Regions from separate parts of the Homo sapiens genome. Here region 1 is linked to region 2. The links come from fine-mapping of genetic effects on gene expression. Tissue or cell type: tibial nerve. Region 2 holds a variant in brackets; the other region holds the start of a gene. All regions are shown on one strand. Distances are from middle to middle.

Evidence for each region. PIP is the estimated chance that this variant, and not a neighbour inherited with it, causes the effect.
Region 1: it holds the start of CNTN2, and the variant in region 2 is fine-mapped to the expression of CNTN2 in tibial nerve (GTEx, PIP above 0.99). The same link has a PIP of 0.9 or more in esophagus muscle, gastroesophageal junction, sigmoid colon and transverse colon.

Annotation. Positions count from the first base shown.
Region 1 is chr1:205,038,375-205,046,374 of GRCh38, forward strand. It overlaps CNTN2 (contactin 2), which reads left to right and starts at 4,838. Exons shown (of 23, transcript NM_005076.5): 1 at 4,838-5,020. RefSeq lists enhancers at 4,532-4,676, 4,624-4,768 and cis regulatory regions at 4,604, 4,696.
Region 2 is chr1:204,986,101-204,994,361 of GRCh38, forward strand. NFASC (neurofascin) reads left to right here. Exons shown (of 30, transcript NM_001005388.3): 22 at 1,318-1,440; 23 at 2,533-2,706; 24 at 5,192-5,206. Among named protein-coding and RNA genes, the nearest start is that of CNTN2, 53 kb to the right of the region's middle. RefSeq lists an enhancer at 3,535-3,624. The variant C/T (reference allele first, on the strand shown) is at 4,330.

The DNA.
Region 1 (8,000 bases), 52 kb after region 2:
CCCACTTCCAGGGTCACAGCTGCCCCCAAGACTGTTCTGTCATATCCTCTGGATGGCATGGCTTTTACCGGGACCAAAAGATGTCCCCACCAGGAACGTCCTCCTTAAACCCAGATGACCTGGGGCAGTCAAGGACAGAGCTCCAGGCAGGGAACCCACGCACCCAGTCCTAGCCCAGCCCCACCTCCACTGCTCTGTGACCTTGGCCCAATCATTTCACCTTTCTGGCTTTGCTTTCTTTGTGACTCAATCCCTCTCTACTGTCCTGCCCTCCTGCCCTCCCACCTTCCACACCAGCCAAATTGTTTCATAAAAAAAGAACTCAGGGTTCTTTGAGCTCTTTGGAGAGACCACATAAATGCAGGGCATTATTAGCATCATTACTATTAAATATTAATAATGACATTAGCATCATCTATTATAAGCCTGAAAAAGGAGCTGCAAGAGCCCTGGGTTGAAATGGCAAAGAGAATAATTAGGCCCCTCCAGGCCACAGACCCCTCTGGGCCCTCACATGAAATTAGGAAGGCAAATGCAGACAGGGCATTGAGATCTTCCTTCCAGCACCCCTGCTAGGTCAACTTGGCTTCTCCAGGCATTACACAAATCATGGCCTTCCCAGGCCCCACATCTTGGCTCCTGCCACACCACATGCCCCCATGCCAGAAACACATTCCCCACCTCCTCTCTGTCCATCCAGGCTCAATTCAAGATGCACCCACCCACCCCCACTGAAAGCTTCACCCACATCCTACCTCCCTCTCTCCTCATCCTCTGAATGGTTACTATAGCTACTCTCCTTCATTCATTCACCCAGTCAACAAATATTTATTGAGTCTCCACCATGCACCAGGCACTGTGCTAAACAGGAGGGTGGGGGACTGGGAGAATACGGACTGATGAGATAATCCCTACCTTTTGGACTGCATAGCTGAGGGAATGGCCATCAGTATTTGATATGGCACTTTGCAATTCAAAGTGCTTTTAAAAACCATTATGTTTAATTCACATATCCTCACTACCATCCTAGATAGGAGTAGGATCATTCCTATTTTACTGGTGAAGAAATGGATTATCTGGGCGATTAAGTGTCATTCTGTTACTTGCCCAGAGTCATCCAGGTAGGAGTGACAGAGCTGGGACAGAGTCCAGTTCTCTTGACTACAAATCCAGAGCCACCCCAACCACTTGCAGCCCTTACTGCTCTGCCTCATATCCTTGTTTTACAGATGAGGGAGGCTAAATCCCAAAAGGGAAATACTGACATTTATTGAGCACCTGCTGTGCTAGCTACTTCACGTGTAACTCAACACTCACATCAACTCAGTGAGGTATGTGTCTTCATCCCCATATTCTGGGTGAAGAGGTATGTGGCTTGCCCATGGCCTCACATCTCCTCAGTAGCAGGACTGGGTGTCAAACGGGTCTGTCTGCAGAGCTTTTCCTTATGGCCATATCAGTTTTCCCCAGAGCTGTGGATGGACAGTCCTGTTACCACTGTCACACTGCTTCCAAAAAGGTCACTGGCACTTTGAAGACCGCATCCCCTGGCTCTTGGATCCCTACATTCCAGGCAGAGGAGCTGCTCCATAAATACATGGCCTCCTGGGAAAAGGGTCTGGGCAAAGATGCTGGTGGCGGGAGAGGCCAGGAAAGGAGAGGTGAGGCGGGGGAGTGGTGAGGAAAGAGACAGCAAAGCTGCAGCATCCTGGGGCCATGGCAGGGTCTCATCTCCTCCCCACTTGTCCCCAGGGATGGGGCCTAGAGGTCCCTTCTTGATCGGTTAGAGACCCACTGGATTCCATTGCTATCAATCTTGTGTGGCTACAGTAGGAAGAAGCAGATGGTCTGGGCAGGGTTGGGTGGCCCTCAAAATGCTTTCTGATCCCCACCCACCACCACCAAGGGAGCACCACATGTTTGCGGACAAATTTATAAGCCATTTGACTAGCCACCTGATTATCTTCACTGGCCCTTTCTTGCCCTGTTTGAAAGTCTGTGGGGACTCAACTTTGAGATGTGGAGTCCCAGCTCTGGACAACATGGAGTCATATTGATCAGCCACAGAAAGGAGAGGTGGCCCTTATGGTCAGCTGCACTGAAGATTGTGGGCTCTGGATGTCACCAAAGAAGAAGAAACTGTTCTGCCCCCTATTTTGCCCACCTCAAAAGAACAGACAGTAGGTAGCTGGAGTCCATGGCACGGTGGCTAAGCCAGGATGCTGGAGGCCGATCCCAGGCCTCACTCTGTCATCTAGGCTGGAGTGCAGTGGCACGATCACAGCTCACTGCAGGCTTAACCTCCCAGGCTCAGGTGATCTTTCTACCTCAGCCTCCTAGGTAGCTGGGACTACAGGTGTGCACTGCCACACTGGCTAATTTTTGTGTGTTTTTTGTTGAGACGGGGTTTCGCCACGTTGCCCAGGGTTCCACTTGTTTACTATTTCTTTTGAGCAAGTTCCTTACTCTTACTGAGCAACATCTGAAAAGTGAGGATAATAACAACATGGACCTCTTGCGCAAGTAATTCAGGTAAAGCATTTAGCACAGCTCCCGGCATGTGGGAGGCATTCAAAACAGATATTATTTCTGTTATTATCAAGCTAATGGGCCCCACAAGCAAAACTCAGCCTGCACCCCCAAATGCCCACCCCACTCTCTCCTCAGGAACAGGAGCATCTCAGAGACTGGGAGTGCAGATCCCCCTAATCTCCCCAAACTCATTCATACTAGACTTCACTGAGAGCTTCAGACAAGTGAGAAGATGAGACTTTGGGAACTGTCTCCCCATCCAAGTCTAGGCTTGGCAAATGTTCTTGTTTTCACTTATTGTGTCTGCCAGAGTCCACATGGAGCATGCTGGTTGCATTGAGATCTGAGAGTCTTTAAGACCCAAGTCACCTGTGCTAACGACCCTCCCCAGAGACCCAGCTCCCACCACAGGGCAGCAGCTGTCCTAAAATAGAGTCACAAAGACAGCTGTCTCCGTCTAAAGCAATCCTTGCAAGCATTTCCAGACTGTTGGTTCCTGGGCCAGCCTATTTCCTGGCCCGTCAGCCCCCTGCAGCAGACATAGCATCCTTTTCTTGGCAAGGACTTGTTCCTGCCGTTTTCTGCTAGGAGAGAACTTGCAGAGCCTCTCTTTGGAGCCCAGGCTGACTTGAATGGTGCCAAAGAGCAAGGTTCACCTCAGGAGCTCAGAGCCAATGTGCCAGCCCTCAGACATACAGATAGGCAAGGACAGTGTGGGCAGGGGAAGGAAGGGAAAGATATCCTGGCAAGGGGTTGATGTGTCTGTCTATATAACAGCATTCAACATTATTTAAGAAACATCATTAGCAAAATCCAAGTCCTCCCCATCAGGAACAAAGAAGACTATCTCTCAAGTTGGGCAAGCCCTTTGGAGGGGCTCAGAAGGAAAGGAGGGGAGCGCATGTGGGACCTGGGCAGACATTCCAGCCTTGGAGGCTGAGCAGCAGAACCTCCCCGACTCCTTCTCCTTTTCCAGACCCTCTCATTCTGGCCCAGGTCCCCAGGACCTCCTCCACTCAGGGAGACATGGAGCCATGATCCAGGCTTGACAGGTATAGCCATTTAAAACTGGGAGGCTGGCCTGGCCCTGCCAGCTGTTGCAGCATCTGGACTGCTCACCGGTCTTGCCTGTGCAAGCTGGACAGCAGGCAGATCAGAGGGGGGTGAGACAACAGTGACAGCCTGACAGGGCCGACTGGTGCCGCAGATGGCTGGTCCCTCCGCCTCCGGGCCACAGCCTTCCTGGGCACTCCCCCACGTGACCGGAGCAGGGCAGGAGAAAGGCATCGCTGACAAGGGTGAGCACTTAGAATCTCAGAGCTGGCAGGACTGTGTCCATCTTTAATCCCTTCAGGTACCAGCGAGGCTCAGAGAGGGCAGGGCACCTAGCCAAGCACACACAGCCAGTCGGTTGTGGAGCCCAGAGTATGCTTCAGACACCCAGACCCCTAATCCAGGGAGCTTTTCATGACATCACACTGCTGGTTGCTTAAAAATGGGATTGGATCCAAACGTACTGATGCGTAAAAGTGTCCAAGATCAGTTACACAGTTAAAAGTCTTTGGCCAATCCTACTGTTTTATGTAATCACATTTGTGTGAAATAACCCTACTAACCCATGTAATTGTATACACGAAAATAATAAACCTGGGGGCATGTACTTAGATTTATTAAGAGTAGTGGTTGAGGGACTTTCACTATGTATTTTTAAATGTCCTCTAATATTTAGATATTTTGACAAAAAGCTCAAACTACTTTTGAACAAGGGAAACAATAAAGAGGAACATGGGGTGGACCGGGCAACAGAGACAGCCCCTCCCTGCCACTTGCCCCACACAGCAAGCTGGGATTTCTGATTTGGATCTCTTCCTCGGATAGGGGATTTCTGGGGAAACCAGGAGTTTTGGCTCCATGGGTCTCCAGGGTTTGAGGAGTAAGAGCCACTTTCTTTTCCCTCTTCACCCCGCCCCTCTCCTGCCCCTTCAGCCCTGGGCAGGGGGACTAGAAGTGGGGCTGGGCAGGATCGGGAGGGCAGGCGGGCCAGACAGCGCCCCGCGGCCTGTCCATGAGCGGCCCATGCATTATGGAAGACGCGCGCTGGGCTCGCTCCCTGGTCCTTAAATGACAGCAAATGAGGTAAAGCCAGGAGGGTGGGGACGGAAGTGGGGTGGGAGGGGGGCAGAAGGAAGCCATCTCCAGGGCCCCCGAGCGTTGGCTGAGGACCAGAGCCAGCCAGTGAGCGGAGCCTGGGAGAGGGAGGAGCACATCTTGATGCAGAGATGCTGCAGTGGCTCCGGGCGCGCTCACACACACGCGCCCTCACCCGCCACCGCCGCCGCGGCCGCCGCCGCACCCGGACAGCGAGCGGCTGAGGCCGCCAGGGCCCAAAGGACAGCGGCCCAGACAGGGGCTGGCGGCCCGGCCGGCCCCGGCTCACCGACTCGGGCAGCATCCACCTGCCCCAGCCAACACCCTTCTCTCGCCCCAGGTAGGTGCCAACCGCTTTTGTCTCCTCCAACCCAGGGACTTCCCTGCGTGCTGTTATGGGCCGGGGCTCCCGGCTCAGTTCCTGTAAATATCCCCCTTGTAACTTGGGAGGGAACAGGGACAGGAACACTGGCAGGCTGGGGCCGTTCTGACTTCTCCCCTCAGCCCCAGGGTGGGTGCTGGGGCTCCCCTCCGCCCTGTCTACGTGGGCGGCATCCCGCAGGGCTCTCTCAGGCCGAGCCTGGCCGAAAAGCTGGACCCCAGGAGTGTGTCCAGGAATTCCAGTTGGCCAGCGGGCAGTGGCAGCTGCCTGTGGAGAGGGCAGTTTCTCCTGGGCCGGCCCTGGGCACCCGGTCCAGGACAGGACCAGTCCATACAGCCAGGCCCTGGGCCCTGGCCTGCCCCAGAAGTCCCTGCATGGAATTGAGCCGGAGTCCCCAGTTTTGAGGTCACCCAGGGTCTACCTCTGCAGGGTGACCTCTTTGCAAAGTCTTGCTTCAGCTGGATGGAGAGGGGGGCTGTGGAAGAGAGAGGGGAGAGTGGAGCACAAGTTTGGGCAAGGGCCTGTCCAGGAACTGGGACTCGGGGAGGAGAGTCCTGAGGCCAGTCACATCCCAAAGGGCGAGAGGCTGGGGCTACCGGGCTGAAATTCCTTTCCTTCCCTTCCCCCTCCCAACCTTAGCTTCTCCTCAAATCCCTCCCCCCCATCCTCACTGGTGGGAGGGAAGAATTTGCACAAAGTTTGGCTTTCCAGTAAGGAAAGGGGCTGGGGCCAGAATGGTATGGGGAAGGGAAGGGGCAGAGCTGGGGAGTTCTGGAAAGAGAGGGCAATCCTTCTGCCCAGCACCGTGGGGCTTACATAATGGGCTGGAGGTGGGGGGCAGCCCCAGCCAGTGAGTGTCCAGAGCTGAATCCTGTCACCTTCTCCAAGAGGGTCTCTCAGGTCTGGGAAGCAGCGGGGCATGGAGAAGGCAGTGCCTATGGAAGGGGAGAATCCTGCTGCTACTTGGGGATGGAGACGGGCACCCTCTAGCCCCAGACCCCTGGGGGTTGAGCCTGTGTCCTGGGGGGGGGGGTCCAGTGAGGCCAGGAGGGAGTGGGGTTGTGCATGCCATGGCCCCAGCCCTGGAGAAAGGTGGGTTTCAGCATCTTTTCCCTCTGCTCAGAAGGAGCTGGGAGGAGGAACAGCCCAAGAAACCCAGTGCACAGGTGATGTTCTGGTCTCGTCTGGGCAACAGTTTCGGCCTCCTCTCCCAACCGTCTGGCCAAAGACGCCTCAGCTCACTTAGCCTCCGAGTCTCTCTACCTCCTGGTCCCACTCAGAGGGGCCGGATGAGCCACTGGAGATCGAGTGCAGCAAAAGGTGGGCCACCTGTGGGAGAGGCTGCTGTGATCGCACCTGGACAGGGAGATGGCCTGGAGGTCACAACAGGTGCCCTCACTCCTGGCCTTGGGAGAAGGGAGCTCTCCCCTTAAAGACAGCAGCATCCAAGCCCCTCCCCAGGGTGCCCACCAGTTAACCCCTTTCTAGCCAAGCTGCAGAACCATGGACAGGGCTTTTGCCACAAGGTCAGAGTCCTTCCTAATCTCCCGTGGAAGTCCTCAGCGAATAAGAGGGAGGCAGGAGGTGAGACAGACAGGAAAGGGCCCCTGACCTGATGATGTCAAAGTCACCCAAGGTCCACCTGCCTCACAGGTGCAGAGACCACTGTGCTCACACCATGAGCGGTGAGGGAAGCAGAGGCACACTCCTTATGCAGATGAGTGCCTCAGACTCCAGGAGTCTGCTCTCATTCCCGGCTCTTTCTCTCTTACTCTCCTCCCTTCCTCTACTCCTTCTTTCCTCGCACTCCCTTCTCTCATCGCGTGTACTCCACCGGCTTCAGCCCTCAGCCTCCCGCCGCCACCATTTCCCCTGCCAGATTTCACTCCTTATGCAACTCCATTCCAGCACCTTCTCTGCCAGCAGTTGTTCAAATAGAGACACATGTGGGATGGGCCTCCGAGGAATTGTGCTTAACGGGGTGATTGCACATCTCGTCTCTGGCTGACCAAACTTACTCCTTAGGAGCATGTACATAGACAGGTGTACCCCAAGGCATCCTTTCTGCCTCTAAAGTCACCAGGGAAGCAACGCATTTGGGGTGGTTTGGAGGATGCATGGTGCCCTCTTCAGAAACCTCCTTGAGCCAAACGTTGGTGAGAAAGCGTATTTCAAAGACAATCTCTAAGCCTGAGTGTGGGTGGTATTTGTATTTTTGGAGGGATTCCTAGGGCAGAACCAGGGGGTTGGAGAAGAGGTGATTGATATGCAGGGGAGGAAGAACCAGAGCAAAGAATATGCCAGGGAAGCCAGAGGGACTTAAGTTAGACTGCAGGAGACACTTCCTGGCTAGAAGAGTGAGCCATGAGGAGGTGGGGCAGTCTCCTTTCAGATGACTCTAAGGATGGTGTGGAGAACTGGGGTCTGGTCCAAGGTTAGAGAGTCCTGCCTAGAGGCAAAGGTTGGGCTGGCTGACCCTGTAAATTTCTTCCAACTTCTAGTAATCCTCTTTCAAATGGTAAAAGGTGGATGTGACTCAGGAATCCATAAGAAGGCAGACATCCTTTTCATCCCCTCATGCATGCTGGCCACCCCCTCATCCTTCAGGACTACAACCCCAATCTAAACAAACCACCCAGAGGCTGTTGCTAACCTGGAACATTTATGGGAGTTTCTGTGGGCTCCGTATCCTGACGGTAACCATCCTAGAGTAAGTCCTTTCTTAGTTTGATGATTCCTTGCTACAAGATTAGCCCATGTTTCTTTGTTTACCAAAGAGAATGCAAACAAAAGCAAGGAGTGTGATATTCTCATCCAAAACCTGAACACCTCCCATCCCAGGACACACTCAGGCCCAAACGCATCTCAGTGTCCTTTTTACCTAATGAGACATTCAGTTCACTACGTAGGTGGGGAAGTCAACCCCAGCCCCTCACAC
Region 2 (8,261 bases):
CACCCCGGAAGGAGGTAGGTCTGGCCTGCAGCTCTTCAGGGTGGGGCAGGAGAAGGGTGGCACACACCTTGGGCCTGGAGAAACTCCAGCGTGGCTCAGCATGGATGGCACAAGGTGACTTCTGCGAGGCCTCCAGGAGCGGATGACCTGCAAGCCGAGCCACTACAGCCATTCCCAGACCACCATCGCCAAGGTGACCTGCCCTGCGAGGAGGTTGTATCTCAAGAGAAGACCTGTGAGGTCTGCTGACATAATTCCAGACGGGTTATGCAGACTGATCCCCGAGGGCACGGCGGGCACCTGGGCCACCCCACCACCTTCCGAGGCAGAAGGCAGCACGTCCATCCTGACTGCCTGGAACCATCTGATTTGTTTGCCAGCACCCAACACCTTCACGGTTCTCCCCCCACGTTCTCAAGAAGCCGTCACTGAAATAGTCGGCCTGTGTGTGCGGTGGCTCTGCAGAGGGATACCCAAGTATAGCCCCGCCTTCTGCAGGCCTATGGTTTCACATGGCCCTGGGGTCAAAACCCCTATTTTTTGTTTCACATAAATTCAAGTTCATGAATTAACAGATGACTGCAAAGTTCCTGGTTCATCTCCTTGTTCTTGCCAGTCTTCTTTTATCTGCTTTGCATCTGTTTCATCCTCCTCCGTTTCTCCTCCCTCCCTCTTTAATTGTTATTTTCCCCATTTTTCCTCTTCTCTTCCTCCTGTCCTCTGTTCTTCCCTCTTGTTCTCTTTATCCCTGTCTTTCCCTCCCCTTGGTTTGGTTTTCATCATTGGCCTCTCCCCAACACTCCCACCCTCCCACCTCTTCCGGATGTTCCACCCTGGCTTTCTGTCTCCTTACCCCTGAACCCAACATTCTCAGCTCAGAAGCCTGGGCCTGCTGCCTGGACCCAGTGATGAGAATCCTTATCTGAGGATAGGGAACTGCAGCCTCTGTACAAAACAGCTGTAAGTGGTTCTCTACCTAGGAATGGCTCTGCCCAATTTCGAGGTATCTTTGCAGAATCAGAGCCTAACATGTGCTGAATCCAGAGTAGTTGCTAGAAGAAAACCTGATTTACTTCTTCCTCTCTTAAATAGCAGAGTCTGAGCTATGTTTGTCCTCAGACCTGAAGGAAATAGCATCCTGGATGGGGCAATGGGCTCCGGTCGTCTCACGGTTCTCCCAGGCTTCAGTTTAGCAGTGTCGAGCATGGGGGTTGTCCAGAGGTCAATGCCTTCATACTTGTGCTTTGTTTTTTGTGTTTTCCTCATCCTCCCTGCCCCCTCCCCCTCATCTCCCCTGCTCTCTCCTCCTTCCCCAAGTACCCAGTGCCCCTAGGCGTTTCCGAGTCCGGCAGCCCAACCTGGAGACAATCAACCTGGAATGGGATCATCCTGAGCATCCAAATGGGATCATGATTGGATACACTCTCAAATATGTGGCCTGTACGTTCTGCCCTTCCCTTTCTCTTAGATAATCTGGGAACCAGAAACCCCATTCTCACCACTTTTCCTAAGGACTCAAGGTAGAAAGCCTGTGGGTGCAGATGGCATTGTGGAGGGATGGAGGGGCCAACGAAACAGTTCCCAATAGGATTAGGGGAGGCAGATGGGACTCAATCCCTGCTCTCCTTTCATAGTTCTGCCTGCAGGGAGCTTCTAGTCTCACTGATGAGACAAAGGGACCTCCAGTCTAATGAAGCAGACAGCCATGCCTTTAGGGATCTTTTGTAGTCTCCAACACGTACAGAGTCTAGGAGAGAGAGTTCCTCAAGCTCTGGAGCTTCCACCTGATGGGGTAGATAGTATACTCACAGGAGTCCACAGTCAGGACACCCCTTGACAAGATGTCATTTATGATAAGGCAGCTGCATGTAGAGCTGCCCGGTGACTGTGGGGTGACCCGAATCAGGAGCCTGGGTTGGAAAGACCCCACCTCAAGAGCTCAGCATCACCATGCAGGGACAGGAGTGCCATTACATTTGAAACACTTTAGGCCTTCAAAAGTAGGTAACGTACCTCGTTAGGAAACTCAAAGAGCCAAATGTTGTGTTGTTAGCAATTTTAATAGCCAACTCTGTGCTTGTATGCTGTTCTGAATTGATCTCTGGACCAGACCCTTTCACCCTTTGAGGTCCATTGAATAGGCACTTTACAAAGGAGGCATTAAGAATCAAAAGGCCTAGTGGCGTTGTCCTAGTTCTGTTTGAAAGGAAGAAAGAAAGTGAAGAGTTTTGTCCTTGTTGAAAGGGCTTAAGAATATAAACGGAATCTTTCTGAATCAGCCACATAACTCTGCAGTGAGCTAGAGACAACAGGATCAGTGAAGAAGGATTAACCCTGGGTGTAATCAAAGAGCCCGGAGGGAGTTCTTGCCGAGTGTTCTGCCTTTGAACCAAGCCTTTAAGATCACCAGGCAGGTGCCATCATTTCCCTTTCCAGCAAAGTCAGGAAAGTGTTCTTCCTCCAGCTTGCAGATTATATAACCCATCAATAAATGTTGCTAAAGTTTAATTCCACTTACCTCTCTCTCCCCAGTTAACGGGACCAAAGTAGGAAAGCAGATAGTGGAAAACTTCTCTCCCAATCAGACCAAGTTCACGGTGCAAAGAACGGACCCCGTGTCACGCTACCGCTTTACCCTCAGCGCCAGGACGCAGGTGGGCTCTGGGGAAGCCGTCACAGAGGAGTCACCAGCACCCCCGAATGAAGGTAGGTGCATGGCAGCAGCCCCTGGGGTAAAAGGTCCCAGCTAATTCCGAGGCCTAGAGAAACACTGAGATCTGTAGCTGGCTGCCTGGGATGGAGAGGAAATGAGACTTGCAAGTCCTCAAGCCCTCGGAAGGTGAGAACCCATCTTATGTGTGAGAGGTAGGTGCTGGCATTGTATCTGGAGCTCAGCTCTCCTTGGACCACTGTGGTCACACCTGGGTCCCCACTTGCCCTGACTTGCTCAGTCACTTGACATCTATCATCTTTCCTTCTTGTAGAGGAATAAGGAAGAGAGCATGAGTTGAGAAATGAGAGAAATCATAATGAACTCCAAAGAACAGTGAGTGTTCACCTCTTGAGGGAGGCAGGAATATGATTGTGAGTGCTCCCATGAGGGCTCTGGGGACAACCTTCTTTCTTCGAAGGCACATGGGTTCAAGGAGGTAGGGGAAACCGTCAGGATGACGCTGTTACTGGCATCATGAGTAGAGCAGAGAATGTGGTCCTTCCTTGCAGCCTGAATTGGATGCGTTGTCAGGCTGCAGAGAGGAGGAGGAGTTAGGAAACAGCCATTTGCCAAGCCAGCTTCACAAAGAGCAAATGAGTTCATCACCTGGGTCCAGGCGTCATCTGGCAGCATTTCAGCCCCACCAGAGCTGCACCTGCCTGAGGACTCCACTAGAGGGGGCTCCAGGCTCACCCGCACACGCACTGGCATCAGGGGAATGTGCAGTCTGGGACCTCTCGAGGAGGCAAGGCTGCAAAAGCCTCAATACTGGCACACCCTCTGGGAAAGGCTGGGGACCCCCGTGTGTCTCCAGAGATACAATGGTCTATTCAACAGCCATTTCTTGAGTACCCACAATGTGAGGTGCCAGACACTGCCACACACAAGGGATATACAAAGGTAACAAGAAGCTCACACCATCTAGAGGGGGAGTCATCTATAAGAATATCTAATTGCATGTCTAAATGAGGGGGCGCAGTGGCTGGGCAGAGAAGGGGATTCAGTCTTCACGGGAAGACTCCAGAGAAGAGGTGATGTGAGTGGGCACTCTGGAAGCTGACAAGTCATCGTGTCTGGTGCTTTCCACAGAAGGGTCAGGTCCCGTGGCCTGGCCCAGGCCCAGACGGGGTCTTCTGAATACCACCCCTACCCGCATTCCAGGAGAGCATCAGTGCTGCCTTCTCTGGGGCTACCAGGCCCGCTGCGTCACCCCGGGATCCCAGGCAGCTTCACAAGCTGCCCACATCCTTCCCCAGCCCACCACTCTAGCCAGTAGACCAGCGCTGAGGCAGGAGAAGAGGGGCCAGGCAGAAGCAGAGAAAGGCTGACAGCCCGCTCTGCATCCCTCTCTGGTCTCAGAAACCAGGAGTGAGTCACACAACCAGCTCTCCCTCCTGCTGTGCTCTTCTGCACTCTCCCAAGCCCCTGGGCACTCGGGAAGTTTATTAGGGCAGGGGGACTTAGGTTAGTGGCTGATGTGTGTCTGTCACCAAAGGCCAGGCCAGGCCAGGCCATGATGCACTTTCTTGATTACTCAATTCTGCAAATAGATAGATAAAGAGAGCCCCTTCTTCCCTCCCTATGTGCACCCCAATACAGAACATCAGATAACAAAG[C/T]CCTATTGTCCAGCCCCAGTAACCACCACAGAGAATGTTCTGCAGCCCCAGGGGACAAAAGGACAAATAGAGGCTTTTTTCTTAACTTAGGGCTTTGCAGAAAATTCAAGAATTTCACTTAGGGCTCTCAGTCCAAAAAAAAAAAAAAAAGAAAAAGAAAGAAAAAAGAAAGGGCTCTCAGTCCAAACTTGGGTTTCTAACTTCATAAAGTCCAACTGGAGGGGAAGAATTGGAGTGACGGAATACCAGGAGAGGGGCTCCAGGCTCCATCCTTCAAAGTTCCCGCCTTCCAAGGTTGCGATGGTGTGGAGTGGGTGCAGCTGAACATGCTCCCTCTCTCCTATCCATCCCACTATTCAGCATCTTCCCCCAAAGACAGGAACCATCCTTTTGACTGGAGTTGGTGTCCTCCCACACCACCTACTCCTTATCCCCTCAATTCCTGGCATCATGGAGCGTCACCCAGCCTGCTCAAAGGTCATGCCAACCTAGCCAGAGCAGGACATGCTGTTGAGGACAGAGCTGGGAACATAATGCTCTGAGTGGACTGTCCCTGCAGCCACCTTTTAGATGTCCAGTCCTTGAATCGAGGTAGAAACAGTGTGTTAGAAAGGTCTCCAAGGCCCAGGTGGAAAGGTTTCTGTAGGAACATGCCTGACTCAGGTGGAGTTGACCGTGAACCCTGAATGCCAGTTGGCATCCTCAGGCCAGCAGCCAGCACCTGGCCACGCCGTCTGCATAAGGTTTGGGCTGGAACCTTCCCTGCTTTCCTTGTCCTGTGGTCTCACTTGTGCTCTGTTTTCTCTTCCCTTTTCCATCCTTTCTCCCTCTGTCTGGCCATCTTGGGCGCTGTGTTCTGAAGCTACTCCAACCGCAGGTACCGTACCAGCCGCGGAGGTAATGGGCATGGCATGGGGCAGCGCAGGCGGAGCCCAGCCCAGCCAGGGCGGACAAGGAGGGAGAGGCTCAGGCTGAAAGCATGCTCCAGACTCACCCTTTCAGTGGTTGGGAAGCCAGACTGTCAAGAGGGATGTGTGTGGAGGATGGGACCAGAGGAGAGCAAGCCCACTTTCCCCCCTTCCCAAACTATTTGCCCCCTGCTGAGTAGGAGAATGGCTCAGCAGGGGTCACACACACACCGGCCCTGACCTGCTCTCTGGAGCTGCAGTTTCATTCTGACACTGAGTAGATTACTTCCCGTTAACCACCTGAGTCCTTGCCTGGGCTTGACAGCTCAGAGCAGTGTCCCCAGCTGTGGCCCTAGAAGGCGCGCTGCAGCAGGAGCAGGGACAGCTGGCTCCTGGTGGGGCTGCCATCTCCTGAAAGGGTGAACATGCTGTGCATGCCAGCTTCGCATGCTGCATGGGGGCCCGGCACCGGCTCTGCCAGCCACCACGGGCTCTGCTCAGTGAGAACAAGCAAGCATGTCCATGGATAGGGCCAGGTGCTCCAGTTCCTGGAGTCTCAGCAGGCACCGTGGGCTGATTATCTCCTCACCCTTCAGAAACCCAGCTTTTCCAAGTCTTTATCGTTAAGAACAGTCTCCACTCTCGGGGTATGGGAGGTAGATCTACAGTGGACTAAGGTGCTGGGCAGCTCTGGGCTTAGGACCTGCTAATCAAGTTACTCCTCTCCAGTCCTCATGTCATGGGTTTGAGGGTCATCAAAGGGCTCTTCATCACAGTTGGCCTGTCCCCAGGCTGGAGAAACGAGGCAGGGGACCCCAGGGTTCCTTTCCAGGCCCTCCTCTGAGCCTGAATTACATCAGATGGGAAATGAGAACAGGATTCACCCTGGCAGAGCAAAGGCTACAAGCAAGTGCTCAGCAGAGCCTCCTTACATGCCAGGCAGTGGAGGGAGGGCTGAGGACCGGGCCAGGAATCTGAGGGTTGGCTTATGAAGGGGATGCCACCTTGCCCAATTCGATTTCCTCCTCGCCTTTGCTTATTCATCCCCACCCCCATCCTAGGTTGATTCTATTTCTGTTGCATACCCTGCTTCCTTCAGTTTGTGTATGTTTTGCGGCCAGATCTGTGGATGGTGAGCTGCCATCATCCTTCCCTCTCTCCCTCAGTCCTCAACATTCACCCACCACCCCAGTGCCTCCCCACAAGGTCTGAACACCCCTGTGAAGATGTGAGGCAGAGAGGTGATCCCAGGCCTGGGGAACAGGGTGAGAGCCATCCTTGCCACACTGGGGGCCTCCCTGACTTCCTGCTTGAAGTTTACGTAAGTCTCTCCCGTGACGAAGAGGAAACGCAGGGAGGGCACCAGGCGAATCAGCTGCAAGCTCAATGGGGAAGCAGCTCCCCGTCCACCTCCCCTGTTCTGGCACCCTGGGACCCAAGGCAGGTGGGCCTGGTGGCAGGCAGTCTGTCTTGTTCAGTGGGCATCTGTGCCGGCCTGTGCTGTCCCTCTACTGAGTGGGTGAGAGGTATCTTTGCAATCACCCCACTTCCTACTTCCCATTTAGAAAAGATCTACACTCATCCAGCATGAGCTCACGGTCTCAATCAAATGTTTCCTGGGCTCCAGCTTCCGTGTGACATGGCAGTGGAGGCAGATTGCACTTTTTTGGAAATGAGATGTGCTGATAACATCAGCTGTTCTCAGCTTTAAATGCGTAAGAACCTTCTGCACAATGAGCAGGTGCCAAGCAACGAAACTCGGGTTCCATGTTTCTGACGTGGGCCTGGCGTCCGGCCCACTGCTGTCTTCCCTCTCGTCCTCTCCAAACCTGGGCACTATTTCCCCAAACTGCCCTGTTCATCTCTCACCCAGTGAAGATAATCCCTCTCATCCACCTGTATCTGTAGTCTCTTAGGATTGCTGCCCGTCTGTCTGACAATCTGTGATTTGGCCGGGGTAGTCAACACGCCATGTGGACATTTTTGGACTAAACCTTCCACCTTGGAATGTAAGGAAGTGCTGTTCTCTTCTTTGACCCAGCTCAGGTCTGCAAATGTTTGGTGGGCTCTTGATAGGTGCCCTGTTCCGTGGCAGGTTCTGGGACAGAAAGATGAATGACACATGTCATCTCTCCTCAGTGTTCTCCATCTCATGCATGGTGCTCCCTGAAACCCACCTGGAAAACCCTTGGCCGCAGCCAGGGTGCCTTCCAGTGTGCATTAGGTCACAAACCTGTGAGGTTGACGCTGCCATCTAGGAAGGGCCTTGTGCTTCCAGCCGAAGCCCACTCAGGATCCCCCCTTAGCTAACAGAGAGTCTCTGCCCGCTGTCCTTGGTCGCCAGGCTGATGGTCTCCACTGAGCACTGGCCAGGATTGCTTCCAAACCTGTAGCTCCTATTGCGGCAGGAAATGACATCCTAGCCCAGTCATGTGTCTGCCCAGCCTGGTGCTGCTCTGTTGGTAAGCCCTACTTCTCAGCTTCGTTGCTCTTCTATCCTCTCCTCCACCTCAGCCCCAGGGGATGAAATAATCTGAATCTCCTTAGACCTGAGCAGTGGAAGGTTTTCCCCATGGAACACTTGTCCTCCTCTCGTTCCCACCTGTACTAGCCCCCTGACAGCTCACTGCCTGACTCTTCTGCACCTTCCCTCGGAGGCTTTTCTTCTTTCCTCCACCCTCCCTAGCTCTCTGGAGGCCCTGTCTTGCCTTGGGACAATAGACACAGCTAATGAGTGGGTCGGAGATGTGCCAGCAGTGACCTTAGCCAGCTGAGGTTGTATCCTCTATGGTAACTTCAATGGTGGGAGCCCCGGGGAGGCTGCCGGAAAGTGACCCCTTTCCTCTCTCTCATCTCTTGCTCCCTCTTACTAAGCCTGAGCCAGACAGGAAGCAGCTAGGTAGCCATCATCAGAGAAAAATGCTTCCTTTCTGCCACACTTGGCAGAAGTGGCCATCAGGGGAGGGGACAATGCAGTGTAGAAACATCTTCAGAGCCATCTCTCATCCTTACCTCTGCCCAGCA